2 separate regions of the Homo sapiens genome follow, and region 1 is linked to region 2. The links come from fine-mapping of genetic effects on gene expression. A gene starts in region 2. The other region holds a variant in brackets. All regions are shown on one strand. Distances are between the middles of the regions. Region 1 has its middle 11 kb from the start of DNAJC12. Region 2 holds the start of SIRT1 (sirtuin 1).

Region 1 (5,000 bases), 35 kb after region 2:
GTACATGCCATCATGTCTGGCTAATTTATTGTATTTTATTTTTAGTAGAGATAACATCGCACTTTGTTGCCCAGTTTGGTCTTGAACTCCTGGCTTCATGCGATCCTCCTGCCTCCCAAAGTGTTGGGATTACAAGCATTTTCTAATATGCCACAATTCTGGCCAGATAATTTGATGTAACATTTTAAACATTTTCTTCACCAGGGACTTTGGAGTCAGACACAGCAGAGTTCAAGTCCCAGCTTTGTCACTAGCACATAATAAGAGCTCACTAATGGTGTTAAATAAAATTTATAGGCCATTGGTTTGAACTGAGCTCCTGCACTAGGCCCAATAGACAAAACCAAAATGAAGTTACTCATGCCAAACTACCATGTCACCAAAACAAAACTAAGTTGCTTATTCCACCTTCCAAGAAATCAGGAGAGAAACCCACACAGGCCAGTTTCAGCTGGCATAATAAGAAAGTCGGCTGTGCTTTAATTTTACAAGGAAAGTAACTTTGAAACGACCAATCTGCTTTTTGTTATCTCTTTCTGCTTTCTTCAGCCCCTTTTTGGCTTATAAAGCCAGCCTCCTGCCCAGATCCCAGAACACTCAATTTATTTTACAGAATGAGGTGTTATCTGATTTATTGCAAATAAAAGCCAATTAAGATCTTTAAATTTGTTGTAATTTTATCTGATGAGTGGTTATTATACGTCTATTTTTTTTTTTTTGAGAGAGTTTCGCTCTTGTTGCCCAGGCTGGAGTGCAGTGGTGCGAGCTTGGCTCACTGCAACCTCCGCCTCTCCGGTTCAAGTGATTCTCCTGCCTCAGTCTCCGGAGTAGCTGGAATTACAGGTGCCCACCATCACGCCCAGCTAATCTTTGTATTTTTAGTGGAGACGGGGTTTCACTATGTTGGTGAGGCTGGTCTTGAAACTCCTGACCTCAAATGATCCACATGCCTTGGCCTCCCAAAGTGCTGGAATTACAGGCGTGAGCCATCGTGCCCGGCCTATTATACTTCTTATTGTTACTTAAAAACAAACAAACAAACAAACTACTTTTAGAGCAGTTTAGTTTCACAGCAAAATTGAGGGGAAAGTACAGAGTTCACATACCCCATCTCCCTTCCTCCCAGAATAACCTATCAACATCCTGCACTTACTATTCTTAAAAATGGCATTAATAGCATTCATCATCGCACCTGATTATAACTTGAAAACGCTATTTCTTTTTTCATTTTTTGAGACAGAGTCTTGCTCTGTCGCCCAGGCTGGAGGGCAGTGGTGCGATCCCGGCTCACTGCAAGCTCCGCCTCCCGGGTTCAAGCGATTTTCCTGCCTCAGCCTCCCGAGTAGCTGGGACTACAGGCCCCCGCCACCACGCCCGGCTAATTTTTTGTATTTTCAGTAGAGACGAGGTTTCACCGTGTTAGCCAGGATGGTCTCCATCTCCTGACCTCAGGTGATCCGCCCGCCTCGGCCTCCCAAAGTGCTGGGATTACAGGTGTGAGCCACCGCGCCCGGCCTGAAAACGCTATTTCAACAGCCTTTGGAGAATCATTTACGAATTTCTAGGTATTCATGTATTCTATGTCTGACTCAACAGTAACGCCTTTTGACTCATCCGGTTCTTGGACCAGGACGCTGTCTTGCTCTGTAAGCCAGGGAGAGATTTTATTAGGCTATTTTACAAATGCAGGGTCTGAAACAAAAAGGTTACGGTCCGGGCAGGCTATGTTTTCTTTCTACTGGATCTTAAGCTGGACCGGATCAGTAGATTGAGGAGCAGGCTTTAGAGAGCCCAGTGTCAATCTGGAATCTAAGCCCTTCTATCAGAGCGCAAAACTCGTGTCCAGGACCCCAGCCTTAGCGGGGAGCAGGGGCCCGTGTGTCGGGAAATAAGGACGAATGGTTGCAGGCACAGTTTCTGGAACCTGCGTTTTGTGCCTCCTTTGCTCGTATTTGGAAAAACCGCTGGGGAAAGGCGCCGATTTCATTCTGCAATACAGAACTTTGAAGC[G/T]AGGCTGGAAGGAAAAACGAGAGGCGGAAAGGGTCAGGTCAGAGTGCGACTTTCAGGGCCGCGCAGAGCCCACCTGTGGGCTGGCTAATTTTCATCCTCGCTCGGAGCTTCTGGAGCTTGTAGCCTCTTGTTTTCCAGCCTTTCTCCTTTTGATTTGAGCTTAGTTTCAGTTTACCTACTTCCAGACTAGGGCATTCGATGTAAAAATAGCACTTACGGAGGGCGGGGGGCGGAGGGGGGGACGGTGTCCCTGAGTATGAAAGTAACTGGCTTGTTTCCGGTTCCTCTGTGGCGCCGTTCTCGCGATGCTCGCGATGCCTTATGGGAGTTGTAGTCTCGGGTGAGAGACGCTTCCCGGCAGGGAGGAACAGGCCTCCAAGGCCTAGGATTGAGCATCGGACTCTCCGTGTCTTGTGTGTGTGGTTCTCTTCTCTTCTCTTGTCTTGTGTGTGTGGTTCTCTTCTCTTCTCTTCTCTTCTCTTCTCCCCTCCCCTCCCCTTCCCTGCCCTCCCCTCCCCTCCCCTCCCCTTCCCTGCCCTCCCCTGCCCTCCCCTGCCCTCCCCTTTCTTTTTTCTGACGGAGTGTCACTCTGTTGCCCAGGCTGGAGTGCAGTGGCGCGATCTCGGCTCACTGCAACCTCCGCCTGCCTGGTCAAGCAATTCTCCTGCCTCAGGCACCCGAGTAGCCGGGACTATAGGCGCCCGCCACCACACCCGGCTAATTTCTGTATTTTTAGTAGAGATGGGGTTTCACCATTCTGGCCAGGCTGGTCTGGAACTCTTGACCTCAAGTGATCCACCCGCCTTGGCCTTCCAAAGTGCTGGGATTACAGGCGTGAGCCACCGCGCCCGGCCTCCACAGAGCTTTAACTCTGTTAAAAAGTTCTACATAATTTCTACTATACGCTATATTCTTCCATACAGAAGAAAAATTATGGGATGACTACATCGACTTCACACAGTTTAAAAAAGTATAAAAGGAAATGAAAATCTTCTTTTGAGTACCTGCCCAGTTCCTCCCCTAAAAGAATACTGTTGCTTGCTTTTTTTTTTTTTTTTTGAGATGAACTTTGGCTCTTGTTGCCCAAGCTGGAATGCAATGGCGCAATCTCGGCTCACTGCAACCTCCGCCTCCCGGGTTCAAGCAATTCTCCTGCCTCAGCCTCCCTAGAAGCTGAGATTACAGGTGTGCGCCACCACTCCCAGCTAATTATTATTAGTAGTAGTAGTAGAGACGGAGTTTCACCATGTTGGCCAGGCTAGTCTCGAACTCCTGACCTCAATCAGGTGATCCACCCGCCTCAGCCTCCCAGAGTTCTGGGATTATAGGCATGAGCCACTTCGCCCGGCCTGCTGCTTGCTTTTTTTTTTTTTTGAGACGGAGTCTCGGTCTGTAATCCAGGCTGGAGTTCAGTGGTACGATCTTGGCTCACTGCACCTCCACCTCCTGGGTCCCGGTTAAAAAAATTCACCTGCCTCAGTCTCCCGAGTAGCTGGGATTACAGGAACGCACCACCATGCCACGCTAATTTTTGCTTTTTTTTTTTTTTTTTTTAAGTAGAGACGGGGATTTCACCCTGTTGGCCAGGCTGGTCTTGAACTCCTGACCTCATGATCTGCCCACCTCGGCCTTCCAAAGTGCTGGGATTATAGGCGTGAGCCACCGCTCCCAGCCTGTTGCTTGCTTTTTAAAGGCAGTTATCTTTAGAAAAAATTACAAGTGCAAATGTACATACTATTAAAAAGTACACAATAGAGATAATACTGTAATACTCTTCTCAAACCTGTTTTTTCATTTGATAGCACTCGTTAGACATCTTTCCATACTTGCACATAAAAAGCTATCTTTATTCTCTTTTCACTGGCAATACAATAGTTCATCCTACAAATAGCATAATTTATTCATCTCCTGCCCTCCTCAACTCCACCGATGAACATTTTGTTGTATATATATTTTTTCCTGTTGCAAACGACGCTGCAGTGGTCCTCTTGAACATATTTTGGTGTATATCCACAAGCTGAATTTGTAGAGACAAAATTGCCCTGTCAAGTATAGATATGCTTTATAAAAGGTGATAAATACACCAAATTGCCAAATTGTACCAAATTACACTCTCATCCAACAATGTATGGAAATGCTTTCTTCGTCATTTCTGTTTTCTGGCATGGGTATTATCAAACCTTTGCTAATCTGAGAGGTGAACAACTTTATCCTCTTTGGATTGATTTGCAGTTTCATAATTATTAGTGATGTTGCACTACTATTTGTATGTTTATTGGTCGTTTGTATTTCTGAAAGTAGTTGTATTTTTGGCTTAATTTTCTTTCTTTCTTTCTTTTTTTTTTTTTTTTTTTCTAGACGGAGTCTCGCTCTGTCGCCCAGGCTGGAGTGCAGTGGCGTGATCTCCGCTCACTGCAAGCTCCGCCTCCCAGGTTCACACCATTCTCCTGCCTCAGCCTCCCGAGTAGCTGGTACTACAGGCGCCTGCCACCACCCCCGGCTAATTTTGTTTTTTTTTGTATTTTTAGTAGAGACGGGGTTTCACCGTGTTAGCCAAGATGGTCTCCATCTCCTGACCTGGTGATCCGCCTGCCTCGGCCTCCTAAAAGTGCTGGGATTACAGGCGTGAGCCACCAAGCCCGGCATTTTTGGCTTAATTTTCTGTTGTGTTGTTAAGCTTTTTAAAATTGATTTGTCTGCACTTGTATATTAAGGAAGTTAGCCTTTTGTCTGTTATGAGAATTATGAAATTTTTTTCTTTGTATATTATTTGCCTTCTGATTTTGCTTTTGTATTTTTTTGGTCACATAAATGTGCTTACTTTTTTTTTTGAGACAGGGTCTTGCTCTGTCGCCCAGACTGGAATGCAGTGGCGTGATCTCAGCTCACTGCAGCTTGGAGTTCCCCAGACTCAAGCGATCCTCCTGCCTCAGCCTCCCTAGTAGCTAGCTGGGATACAAGTGCTTTTTTTTTTTTTTTTTGTAGAGACT
Region 2 (5,000 bases):
GGCACGAGAATGGCTTGAACCCGGGAAGCGGAGGTTGCGGTGAGCCGAGATCACGCCATTGCACTCCAGCTTGGGTAACAAGAGCGAAACTCCACCTTTTAAAAAAAAAGAAAAGGAAAAAAAAAAAGAAAAGATAATAATCTAGCTAGAATGTATCATACAATCACAAACAATAGCGTTCGTGAAACGTGTAATAAATGGACATTTACATAAAAACGTCATTCAAATATAACCTTGGCAATGCGCACGTTAAACTTACACAATACTACAAGTACCTCTGCATTGTTTCCTCTATTAAATAAACAGTATTAATAACACAATTATTATTAGGTAAATAATAAATTAGTACTCAACTGTGTTGCTTGAAATCAGGGTCTCTTTACTAAATCAGTCCCTAAAAACACATATTACTTTTTTTTTTTTTTTTTTTTGAGACGGGGTCTCACTCTGTTGCCCACCCTGGAGTGCAGTGGCAGGATCACAGCTCACTGCAACCTCGAACTCTAGTACCTGGGACTAAAGGTGTGCGACACCACGTCCCGCTTTTTTTACTTTTAGTAGAGAGGAGGTCTCGCTATGTTGCCCAGGCTGGCCTGAAACTCCTAGGCTCAAGAGATCCTCCCGCTTTGGCCTCCCAAAGTGCTAGGATTACACGAAAGAGCCACCGCGCCCGGCCTGACCCAAATATTGATAAAGATGAACACCTATCAAGGATAGAAACTCCTCAGATCAAAAATAAGAAACCTGACCGGGCGCGGTGGCTCACGCCTGTAATCCCAGCACTTTGGGCGGCCGAGGCGGACGGATCACGAAGTCAAGAAATCAAGACCATCCTGGCCAACATGGTGAAACCCCGTCTCTGCTAAAAACACAAAAATTAGCTGGGCGTGGTGGCGGGTGTCTGTAGTCCCAGCTACTCGGCAGGCTGAAGGAGAATCGGTTGAACGCGGGAGGCGGAGGTTGCACTGAGCCGAGATCGCGCCACTGCACTCCAGCCTAGCGACAGAGCGAGACTCCGTCTCAAAAAAAAAAAAAAAAAAAAAAAGAAACCTTCAAGAACATGACAACTGCAACATATCTGCTTCATTATGCTAGAAGTGTTAAGTTTGTGTCTCAATACTACATACATACAAAAAAAGCATGTTTAGCCCAAACACCATTACCGCACAAGAGCAAGATTAGAATAAAAGTAATATGAACAGCTCTAAAAGTACTCTCTCTCCCATACCCACTCCTAACTGCATTACAGAATGGTAATGTCTTCAGGAACAGCCACGTTCTTTAAATTTTGCAAGCTGTGACTATAGAAACAGCTTTCCTCTTTCAAAAATTGTAATTTCAGTCATAAAAATATAGACCAAAAAAAGCAAACTGCACAGGTGTCAAGTTTGCAAAAAGCAATTGAAAACGCAGACCAACGGGACAGCCAAAAAGTTGCAGACTTAAGTGTGCTGGGGGGTAGAGGAGAAAAGCAATGAAAATAAAAAATAAAGAAAAAGAAAAAAAAAGCTCTAACAAAAGCAATATGCTAAAAGAGTAAGAGGGGGAGAGAAACTTATTTTAAAGCGACTGCGAGAGTCTCCCGACCTGGCTGCTGCGGAAAGAACAAGGCCGCCCAGGCGGGCCACGGACGGAGGAAAAGAGCGAATCCACTGGCAGCTCGCGCAGTAGGAACCGCAGCCCCGGAGGAGCGCGGCTGAACGGAGGGCCGGGGTGGGGAGGGGAACGCCGCGGAGCCTGCCCCGAGCCCCCAGCCGCCCTCAACCTCAGGCCAGTAGGAGCCCGGGGAGAGGGAGGAGGAGATGCGCAGTTCCGGCCGCCCGCACCCTGCGCACCTCGGTACCCAATCGCCGCCGCCGCCGCCTCTTCCTCCTCCTCGCCCTCGTCGTCGTCGTCTTCGTCGTACAAGTTGTCGGCCAGCGGTGGCTCCCGAGATGGGCCCTGCAGGCCCGGCCCATTGTCTCCTTCCCCAGCCGCCGCAGTCGCCTGGGCCTCTTGCTCCCCGCCTGCCGCCGCCGCCTCTGCCTCCGCCTCCCGCCACAGCGCCGCCGCCGCCGCACCCGGGCAGCCCCTGGCCGCCGCCGGCACCTCACGCTCTGGGGCCGCCCCACCGGGCTCGCCCGGGCTCCGCTCGAGGCCGGGACCATCTCTCCGCGGCCTCTTGCGGAGCGGCTCCCCGGCGGGGGACGACGCGGCCTCCCTGTCGGCCCCCGCCGCCGAGGGGGAGCCGCCGGGCTGAAGGGCGAGGGCCGCCTCGTCCGCCATCTTCCAACTGCCTCTCTGGCCCTCCTCCCTCGCCTCCTCTGCTCCCGCTCGACGCGCGGCACTGGCGCCCCCGCGGCTCCGGCTGCGGGAGATTTAAACCCCATCACGTGACCCGCCCCATCGCCGCCCCCGCCCTCTCGGCGCTCCCGCCACCCACGCGGGCCAGACCACAACACTACGGGTCACGTGGCGGGCGGAGGCTGTTGCGTCTACCGCTCCGCCTGGGCTGGAAGCGCACTCGGCCCCGGCGGCCGGCGGCCCTTCCTCTTTGTGGCGAGCGTGTAGTGCAGCCAAATTCGCCCCTCGGCCGCTTTCTCAACTTCTCTTTCAAACTGACCTCAAATCACTACCGCCGGAACAGCTCAAGTTTTGGTCCGCCCTGGGAATTTCCACGTCTTCCTGAAGTGTACACCTGGCCTGCCTTAGCCTTGTCTATATTTAGCTAAGGGTTAAAACACAGCTGAAGCTGGCTAAGACTTAGCTCCCTGAAATACGTTGGATAGTCGTTCTGTTTTGTTAATAAGTAGGAAGAGAGGCAAAAGGAGGCGGCTCCTTTCCCACTCTCCTCACACCGTTCTGACAGCTCCTCTTTTGCTCCTTTTTCTGCTCCTTGCTTTTCTCCTTAGTCGGTTGCTTTTTTCCCCTCTCTCCCATCACTTGTAGGGTGGTATACATTGTAAAATCCTTGAAGGCATATGTCCTCCTGGGAAGACCTTTGACGTGGAGGTTTGGAGATCAGCCGATCTACTTTCTGGCCCCAGCTTGGCTTCAAACGTGTGTGAATTCCCTCCTCCGGGCCTCAGTTTTCTCACGTGCAGAATGGGTTTGTTGGGTCAGTATGAGAGCATGGGAAGGAAATGACTTGGCCTCCATGCACATCTGCCCTTGGTTAAAATTTGGAGTCCTTCCTTTCTAGCGTGAGCTATCTAGCCGTTTCTAAACTTAATTTTTCTCATGTCTTAAATGGTAATAAGTATTTTAAAACGTCATAGATTTAAATGAGATAACCAGATGTAAAACGAGGGGTACCTAGTAGTTCAAAAGGCTTAGTGGAAAGCCCTTCCACTTTCCTCTCTCCCTGAAATTCTGGCACACTGTGACTCCATATCTAATCTTAACTAAGGACCCATATAACCCATGGTAGATCTAGAGCCAGTGTTTGTTATGGCATCTGCCTGGAGCACAGCGTTTCTATCTGTTTAAAGGACCTCTACGAGTTTATGGTACACTGTCCCTTAAGCCTAGTATGGGTTCTGGCCATACTGCATCAATTACCTGCGTGACTTTAGGCAACCAACTTAAAGCTGTTTCTTCATCCTTAAAATAAAAAATAAAAAGCTGGAAATATATCGCTAAGGTCCTATCTACATCCAAAAGTCTTATTTCATCTGGTCACCACTATTCATTTCTGAAAGTAATCATCTCCAGTCCTAGAAGCCTTAAAACCATCTTTGGTTGCGTGGGGGTCAAGGGGAGGGAGAGCATTAGGACAAATAGCTAATGCATGCGGGACTTAAAACCTGGCTGGGCGCGGTGGCTGCTGCCTGTAATCCCAGCACTTTGGGAGGCCGAGGCGGACAGATCACCTGAAGTCGGAAGTTCGAGACCAGCCTGACCAACATGGAGAAACCCCGTCTCTACTAAAAATACAAAATTAGCCGGGCGTGGTGGCACATGCCTGTAATCCCAGCTACTCAGAAGGCTGAGGCAGGAGAATCGCTTGAACCCAGCAGGCAGAGGTTGCGGTGAGCCGAGATCGCACCATTGCACACCAGCCTGGGCAGCAAGAGCGAAACTCCGTCTCAAAAAAAAATATAAATAAAACCTAGATGAGGGGTTGATTGGTGCAGCAAACCACCATGGCTCACCTATAAGTATGTAACAAACCTACACATTCTGCACCTGTATCCTGGAACTTAAATTAAAAAAAAAATCTTTGAAGCGTTCCTTCATACCAATCCCTCTGAAATCCATCTGACCAATCAATGACCAAATCCTGTTGTCCTTCCTTTCTTGCTACACTCCTCCCAATTCCTGACTAGGCACCACACTCCTAGTGGTTGACATACTTGGTCCTCCCCACTTTCTGTCTTACACTACAAAATATTTCATAAATTGACTCTCAGCTACGTTGGTGGAATGCAATATATGAAATGTTGAGAGTCAGTATCCCAATAAAACAGAAACAAAATTCCCAGCTTTTTTGAGAAAAAGATGTCTGTAAGCTTATGAGCATCCTGTTGTTCATTAATTCATTTATATTTATAGTATATTATTGACACGTGAAGTTTATGAACTACAAGAAATGCTATGTGATCAATATTATTGTTAGTATGCTGAGAGGTCAGAGATGCAGTATGCTTTTCAGGTAGGATAAATGAGAAACAGAAATTGTATTACAACAAACACAAAAACAAAAAATCCCAATTAGACTTCTGGTCTACCACTGGTTAAGAACTAACATTAAGGCTAGGCGCTGTGGCTCACGCCTATAAATCCCAGCACTTTGGGAGGCCAAGGCGGGCGGATCACCTGATGTCAGGAGTTCGAGACCAGCCTGACCAGTATGATGTAACCCCGTCTCCACTAAAAATACAAAAATTAGCCCAGAGTGGTGGCATGCGCCTGTAATCCCAGCTACTCGGGAGGCTGAGACGGGAGAATCGCTTGAACTCAGGAGGTGGAGGTTGCAGTGACCTGAGACAGTGCCATTGCACTCCAGCCTGGGCAACAAG

What was found. PIP is the estimated chance that this variant, and not a neighbour inherited with it, causes the effect.
Region 1: its variant is the best candidate, but not a certain one, in a credible set for the expression of SIRT1 in whole blood (INTERVAL, PIP 0.88).

What each region holds. Positions count from the first base shown.
Region 1 is chr10:67,846,793-67,851,792 of GRCh38, reverse strand. No RefSeq gene overlaps it. Among named protein-coding and RNA genes, the nearest start is that of DNAJC12, 11 kb to the right of the region's middle. RefSeq lists enhancers at 2,257-2,316, 2,347-2,396. The variant G/T (reference allele first, on the strand shown) is at 2,011.
Region 2 is chr10:67,881,987-67,886,986 of GRCh38, reverse strand. It overlaps SIRT1 (sirtuin 1), which reads right to left and starts at 2,331. Exons shown (of 9, transcript NM_012238.5): 1 at 1,836-2,331. The coding sequence starts at 2,265. RefSeq lists silencers at 1,626-1,745, 1,542-1,836, 2,271-2,455, 1,956-2,495, promoters at 2,263-2,438, 2,265-2,476, 2,264-3,295, 2,266-4,651 and enhancers at 2,576-2,735, 2,756-2,815.